2 linked regions of the Homo sapiens genome follow. The protein of the gene in region 1 purifies or fractionates together with the protein of each later gene. This does not show direct contact. Each region holds a gene or a part of one and is shown on either strand. Other genes may lie near its edges.

The links.
Region 2: the proteins of TIMM17A (region 1) and ELOVL5 purify together in Homo sapiens (affinity purification with mass spectrometry, with the first as the bait; one large-scale study listed by BioGRID). This does not show direct contact.

The regions. Positions count from the first base shown.
Region 1 is NC_000001.11:201,958,471-201,962,294, reverse strand, and holds part of TIMM17A (mitochondrial import inner membrane translocase subunit Tim17-A), read right to left. Parts: intron 1-3,824. UniProt on the Homo sapiens protein: Essential component of the TIM23 complex, a complex that mediates the translocation of transit peptide-containing proteins across the mitochondrial inner membrane.
Region 2 is NC_000006.12:53,338,789-53,342,612, forward strand, and holds part of ELOVL5 (very long chain fatty acid elongase 5), read right to left. Parts: intron 1-3,824. UniProt on the Homo sapiens protein: Catalyzes the first and rate-limiting reaction of the four reactions that constitute the long-chain fatty acids elongation cycle.

The sequences.
Region 1 (3,824 bases):
AGTACAATATTAGACATCACATCCTATGTAAAAACAAACCAGTTATTTCTTCTAACTCAGTAATTCTATGCCCTGGGAGAGAGCTATGACGTCTAGGTATATTAGAATTACCTCACTAAAATTTTCTGACAAGACCCTCCCATTTCCTCATGAGCCTAAAATCTCAGGAGACCCTTCCCCTGAGAATCATTGCCAGAATAAGTGTTGGCTACTAATGAGAATGGAGAATTTGAGTCTAAGCAGGATGAGGAGGAGATCCATAAAGGGTAGCCTGGTGTGAGGATCCAGAGCCAGATGAGGCGAACGTCTATACACCTGGACACCCGAGAACAAGGTTTTAGAGCCTAAGCAAGAGAGAGATTCTCAAGGAAGGCAGCCTGGCATGGAGTGTCAGAGTATACTCTGACAAAGGGCAGCCTGTTGTGGGGTACCATAGCCCAAGCAGGTTAAGAAGGCAGGTATACATATGAAAAGGAAGAAAATAATGAATCCTGTGGGATGAACTGGAAATACGAGATATCAATATAAACTTGTGATTTTCAGTATGTATAGATATACAGAAATATAGATTGTATACCATTCTTGATTTTTCTTTTAAAAAATTTTTTTGTAGAGAGGCATTCTCTCTAAGTTGTCAAGGGTGTTGAACTCCTGGGCTCAAGCCATTCTCCTGCCTTGGCCTCCCAAAGTGCTGGGATTACAGGTGTGAGCTACCACTTCTGGCCCTAAATACCATTCTCAACTAAAAGGAACTGGGGCTCTTTGGAGAAATGGCTACAACAGGAAAAGCTGCCCTGCCCACAGCTAGGGCATGAAAAGTACAAGATGAGCCTGAAACGTCTTCTTCCAAAATGCAAGAAAGTGGTCAAAGAGTAACAGGGACATGTCAAAATCCTATCTTATTTTCTCTATGAAAATATAAGACCTGGGCTGGGCCGGATGGCTCACGCCTGTGATCCTAGCACTTTGGGAGGCCAAGACGGGTGGACTGCCTGAGCTCAAGAGTTCGAGACCAGCCTGGGCAACATGGTGAAACCCCATCTCCACTAAAATACAAAAAACTTAGCCAGAAGTGGCGGCATGCGCCTGTAATCCCAGCTACTTGGGAGGCTGAGGATGGACAATCGCTTGAACCGGACAGATGGAAGTTGACGTGAGCCGAGACCGCGCCATTGCACTCTAGCCTGGGCAACAAGAGCGAAATTCCGTTTCAAAAAAAAAAAAAAAAGAAAATATAAGACCTAAGTCCGGGCGTGGTGGCTCATGCCTGTAATCTCAGCACTTTGGGAGGCTGAGGTAGGCGGATCACCTGAGGTAGGGAGTTCAAGACCTGCCTGACCAATATGGTGAAACCTCGTCTTTACTAAAAATACAAAAATTATCCCGGCTGTGGTGGCGCATGCCTATAATCCCAGCTACTCAGGAGGCTGAGGTGGGAGCATCACTTGAACCTGGGAGGCGGAGGTTGCAGTGAGCCAAGACTGTGCCACCACACTCCAGCCTGGGTGACCCTATCTCAAAAAAAAAAAGAAAGAAAATATAACACCTTTCAGAACACAACTATGATTTTCCCATACTGCCTGTCCCTCCCTGCACCTTGATCTGAATACCTTAGCAAATGCTCACCAAATTAATAAAATCATCATCCTAGTATTTTTAGAATTTAAAATACCATAAAAACTTCTCAATAGCTTCCTAAAAAAGGCTAACCTCTAGGATTTGAAATGGATAATTCCAATTCACTCATATCACCACTCACTCTTCCTCTATTTCACCGTGCTTTGTAAGAAAAAATAAACTCTTCCAGTTTTTCCCTATTACCAACATCTACATTAGCATGGAGCATCTGTCACAACTAATGACCCAATATTGACACATTACTATTTTTTTTTTTTGAGACAGAGTCTTGCTCTGTTGCCCAGGCTAGAGTGCAATGGCACAATCTCGGCTCACTACAAACTCTGCCTCCCGGGCTCAAGCGATTCTTCTCCCTCAGTCTCCCGAGTAGCTAGGATTACAGGTGCCTGCCACCACACCCGGCTAATTGGTGTATTTTTAGTAGAGACGGGGGTTTCACCATGTTGGCCAGGATGGTTTCGAACTCTCGACCTTAGGTAATCTACTGCCTCAGCCTCCCGAAGTGCTGGGATTACAGGTGTGAGCCACTGTGCCCGGCCGACACATTACTATTAACTGAAGTCCATACTTAATTCAGATTTCCTTAGTTTGCTAATGTCCTTTTTCTGTTCCACAGTACCACATTACATTTATTTTTATTTATTTATTTATTTATTTTGAGACAGAGTCTCGCTGTCACCCTGGCTGGAGTACAGTGGTGTGATCTGGGCTCACTGCCAAGTTCCGCCTCCCGGGTTCAGCCATTCTTGTGCCTCAGCCTCCCAAGGAGCCGGGACTACAGGCGCCCGTCACCATGCCCGGCTAATTTTTTTTGTTGTTGTTTTTTTTTGTATTTTTAGTATTTTTAGTAGAGATGGGGTTTCACCGTGTTAGCCAGGGTAGTCTCGCTCTCCTCACCTTGTGATCCACCTGCCTCGGCCTCCGAAAGTGCTGGGATTACAGTCGTGAGCCACCGCGCCCGGCCTACATTTAGTTTTTAATTTTATTTATTTATTTATTTTTTGAGACAGCGTCTCACTCTATCACCCAAGCTGGAGTCCAATGGCACAATCTTGGCTCACTGCAACCTCCACCTCCTGGGTTCAAGCGATTCTCCTGCCTCAGCCTCCTGAGTAGCTGGGATTACAGGCACGTGCCACCATGCCCAGCTAATTTTTGTATTTTTAGTAGACATGGGGTTTCACCACGTTGGCCAGGCTGGTCTCAAACTCCTGACCTCGTGATCCACCCGCCTTAGCCTCCCAAAGTGTTGGGATTACAGGCGTGAGCCACTGTGCCCAGCCCTTTTATTTTATTTTTTAGAGACAGAGTCTTGCTCTGTCACCCCGCCTGGAGTACAGTGGTGCAATCTCGGCTCACTGCAAACTCCACCTCCTGGGTTCAAGCGATTCTCCTGCGTCAGCCTCCTGAGTAGCTGGGACTACAGGCATGCACCACCGGGCCCAGCTAATAATTTAGTTGCTATGTCTTCACAGGCTTCTTTTGGCAGTGACAGTTATCTGATGGTATTTTAACTCACTGAAAATGCGTAAGGTGATAGAAGCAGCCTCTCAAAAAACAAGCAAAAACCTATATGGCTTCTGCATATACTAGAGGTTCTGGGTTTGGTGTGAACTTTTTAATACCACTCATCATTCTTGAATAACACAATAACCACCAACACAAAAACAAAGAGAAATTAGTTACTAATTACTTTCCAGGGTAGATAATTCTTACACAGGGAACAAAGGAAAAAGATACAACATTACCTCAACCCTCAGGAACTAAATTTCCTCATCTGGAAAATGGGAGATAATAATAGTACTAACTTCTTCATTACTGTGAGAGTTAAGAAAAGCAAAGAGAAGATTATTTTGATACCCAAAACATCTAAGGAACGACTGAAGTATTAAGATTTTTTCATGTCTTATATACGGTCTCTCCAATCTAACTATACCCTTGTGTTGTTTGTTTTTGTTGCTGTTTGAGACAGGGTCTCTGTCACCCAGGCTGGAGTGCAGTGGTGCAATCTCACTGCAGCCTCAACCTCATGGGTTCAAGTGATCCGTCCATGTCAGCCTCCCTAGTAGCTGGGACCACAGGCACATGCCCCAACACCTGGCTAATTTTTCCATTTTTCTGGGGAAATGGGCAGCCATGCTGCCCAGGCTGGTCTCGAACTCCTGAGCTCAAGCTATCTGCCTAAC
Region 2 (3,824 bases), on another chromosome or scaffold:
TAACTGATGTGATTACTTGAATATTCAAAATAAATTATCATTTGAGGAAATTATCAATTGAGTTCTCCAACCTAATTTGTGCAAAGTATACAAAGGCAGTGATACCTTAAGCTGAAATTAAAAGACGGTGGAGAAACATAATAAAGATTAGTTATGCAACCCCCCAAACGAAAATGTCTTAAAAGATTTTAATTCAAGCCTGTGTAACATAAATAAGGCATATAACACAAAAACACATTTCTTTTTTAAAACTCAATCTACACGCCCACATTTTATAACTGTTGTTTGGGTGTGAGGGTGAGTGAGGAGAGGGAGAAGCAAAGTTAAATGTGTAAAAAATGGGGGAAAATCCTGCTACAATACAGCATTTTTCAAAGGGACACACAGTCTAGCAACTGTGTATTCATCTCCTCTATAGCATGTCTCTGAAACCAACAGTTGTTTTATCACCTGTTCAGATTCCATGTGAATATATAAGCCACCCCATGAATTTTGTGATTCTCTTATTTTAGGAATGCTGATACTTATAGCCATTACAATGTTGCCAAACCTAGTGTCCCACACCCAGAAAGAAAACTCAGTTCTGAAAGAGTCTAAGGATCCTAAGAGAACTGAAGGTGGTGGCAGACTTGTCTATAGCCTGAACACCATGGCCCAGCACAGTGGCCCTTAATGGGGCCTTGTATCAAAATGACTTAATGTCATTCTCTATCAGAATGTTTTCAAAATATAGTCACGCATCGCATAATGACCTTTAAATCAACAATGGACCACATATACAATGATACTCCTGTAACATTATAATGGAGCTGAAAAACTCCTATTGCCTAGTGACATCATAGCACAATAAAACATTTGTGGTGATGTTGGTGTAAATAAACCTACTGCATAGCTAGACCTGTAACAGTATCACACATAAAATTATGGACAGTACATAATGCTTGATGCTGATGATAAAGAACTATGTCATTGGTTTATGTATTTGGTATACTATACTTTTTTATCATTAATTGAGTGTACACCTTCTAATTACATATTTTAAAAAGTTAACTATGAAACAGCTTCAGATAGGTCCTTCAGGAGGTATTCCAGAAGAAGGCATTGTTGTCATAGGAAATGACAGCTCATGTGTGTTACTGCTCCTACAGACCTTTCAGTGGGACAAGATGTGGAGATGGAAGACGGTGACATTGATGATCCTGCCCCTGTACAGACCTAGGCTAATGTGTATGTTTGTTTTAGTTTTTAACAAAAAAGTTTAAAAAACTTTAAAAGGAGAAAAAAAGCTTGAAGAATAAGGATACGAAGAAATAAAATATTTTTTTTGCAGCCATACAGCCTGTGTTTTAAGCTAAGTATTATTACAAAAGAGTAAAAAAGTTTAAAAAATTTATAAAATAGAAATGTTACAATAAGCTACAGTTTATGTATTAAGGAAGAAAAATATATATTAAAATAATACATATTTTTAAAAAAACTTTTATTATAAATAAGTAGAGATGGAGTCTTGTGATATTGCCCAGGCTGGTCTTAAATGCCTGGTCCCACCTCAACCTCACAAAGTGCTGAGATTACAGACATGAGCCACCACACCTAATCAAAAAATATTTTTTATAAACCTAATGTAGCCTAAGTATACAGTGTTTATAAAGTCTAGAGTGTACAGTAAAGTCCTAGGCCTTCACATTCACTCCCCACTCACTGACTTACCCAGAGCAACTTCCAGTCCTGCAAGCTCCATTCATGGCAAGTGCCCTACATAGTTGTATCATTTTTTATCTTTTATATTTTTACTATATCTTTTCTTCATTTAGATATACAGATACTTGCCACTGTGTTACAGCTAGCTACAGTATTCAGTACAGTAACTTGCTGTACAGGTTTGTAGCCTAGGAGCAATGTGGTATATCATATGCCCTATGTATGTGGTAACCATCTAGGTTTGTCTAAGTACACTCTATGATGAACACACAACAACAAAATTGCCTAAGAGTACATTTCTCAAAAAGTATTCCCATTGTCAAGCTATACATGACTTGTACGACTTGTACACCTGACTTACATTTTCACCCAAGGGAGATCAGGCAATCTGGAGATAGAGGCTCCCTAAAGAATGTGAGTGTCTTTCCCTCCCGTCTGCATTTCTCTGAGCGTATATACCTTGTAAATCAAACCAGATGGGGCTAGGACCGGGTAAGGAAACCAATGCTGGATGCCCTTGGCCAGTCATACTAATCCAGCCACACTAGACCAGTCAGGCTAGTGAACACTGACTCAACTGGGCTTTTGAACACTGATTTCTTACACTAACAATTGTAAGCTATTCAGTGTGTACGCTTCTGATTTTCCCCAAAAAAGAGGTTTAAGTTCAAAATATCTAAAATAAGGAGTAATGGAAGAAACAAACGGTCACCCTTTCAAGTATTGATCATAAATGTTATTCCCTATTAGCTTTCTTTATCTAAACCTTTATTTAGTTACTGTCAACAGAAGCTATATGTTGATTATACCGTCAGCCTCCCAGAATGTAACGATGAATAAGAAACTCAACCTTGTTTCCTCTCATGTATCTAAAGCTGCAAATACAAAGATCACTACTTAGGTCTGACAGGTGTACAGCACAGCAGGGTGGCCAAGATTAGAGTCTTTAAGCCAATCTGCCTGGGTTTGAATCCTGCCTCTGCCACCTACTAGCTGTGGATATTTGGACAAGTGACTTAACCTTTATCTTAGTTTCCTCATCTGTAAAATTGGGGTCCCTACCTCGTGGGCTTTTGTGAAGCCACAATGAATTAATACATGTTGAACACTTCAGAAAAGTGCCTATTATGTGGTACCAAGCAGCTATATTCAGTACCCATAGAACAGCTTTGTTCTCTTTAAAATTTGCAGAATATTCCGTTGCCCAGCTGTAGCATGATTTATTCTTTTCAAGGACATTTAGTCTACTAACTCTTCCAATCTTTTGCTATTAGAAACAATGCTTCAATAAACATCCTATATAACAGAGAGACGTTTTTACTATGCTAATTAAATTAAGTCAGTGCCCCACCTAACTTTCATGTACAATACTGATAGTTTTAATACCCTCCAAAGTAGGCACAGGATTATCACCTTCCAAGTTCTACATAGATTCTAGGGTCTCAAGGAGGTAGAGTGACTTACCTGCTGAAGCCCACGCAGCTGTTAAGTGGCAGAGGTGGAACCCCGCATAGGTGCAGGCTGCCAACCCAATCTGCTTCCCACAGCTGTCCTTACTTAAAAGAAGTACAGGAGGTATTCTTTTAAATGCACCTCAGATCCATCACAGAGATTAATATGCAGAAGTTCGGACAGAAGCAAACTCAAATTTTCACACAGATGCTTCTAACAAATACAGCTGATGGAGGCGTCAACGACTTCTGTAAATATTGAAGTATTATTTCTTCTGCCAAAGACTGAAGCAGAAGTACCCTGAATACTACCCCTAGGGAGATACATCACATTTCAAACTCCCCTGGAAGCAAATGAATAATTACTGAATTTGGTATCATGAGAACTATTCTTCAGGGAAGGAGAAATTCATAACACTCACTTTGTTGTAGCATTTGCTGTGCCAAGACCAAAGAGGAACAAGTACTACTCTGGGGTTCAGAAACTCATAAAACACAGACCTGAGTGGCCAATTCGCCAGCATGGCTTCAATTAGGTCTGTTCAGCATGGGCTTATAAGAGATTAATTCTGACAGGATGAAATTGTTGACATGAGGAAAAGGATGGGGTAAATGTGGAACTTAACAGAGATGGAACCTGTGCTCGCAAGAGGGTGCCTACCTAATATAACC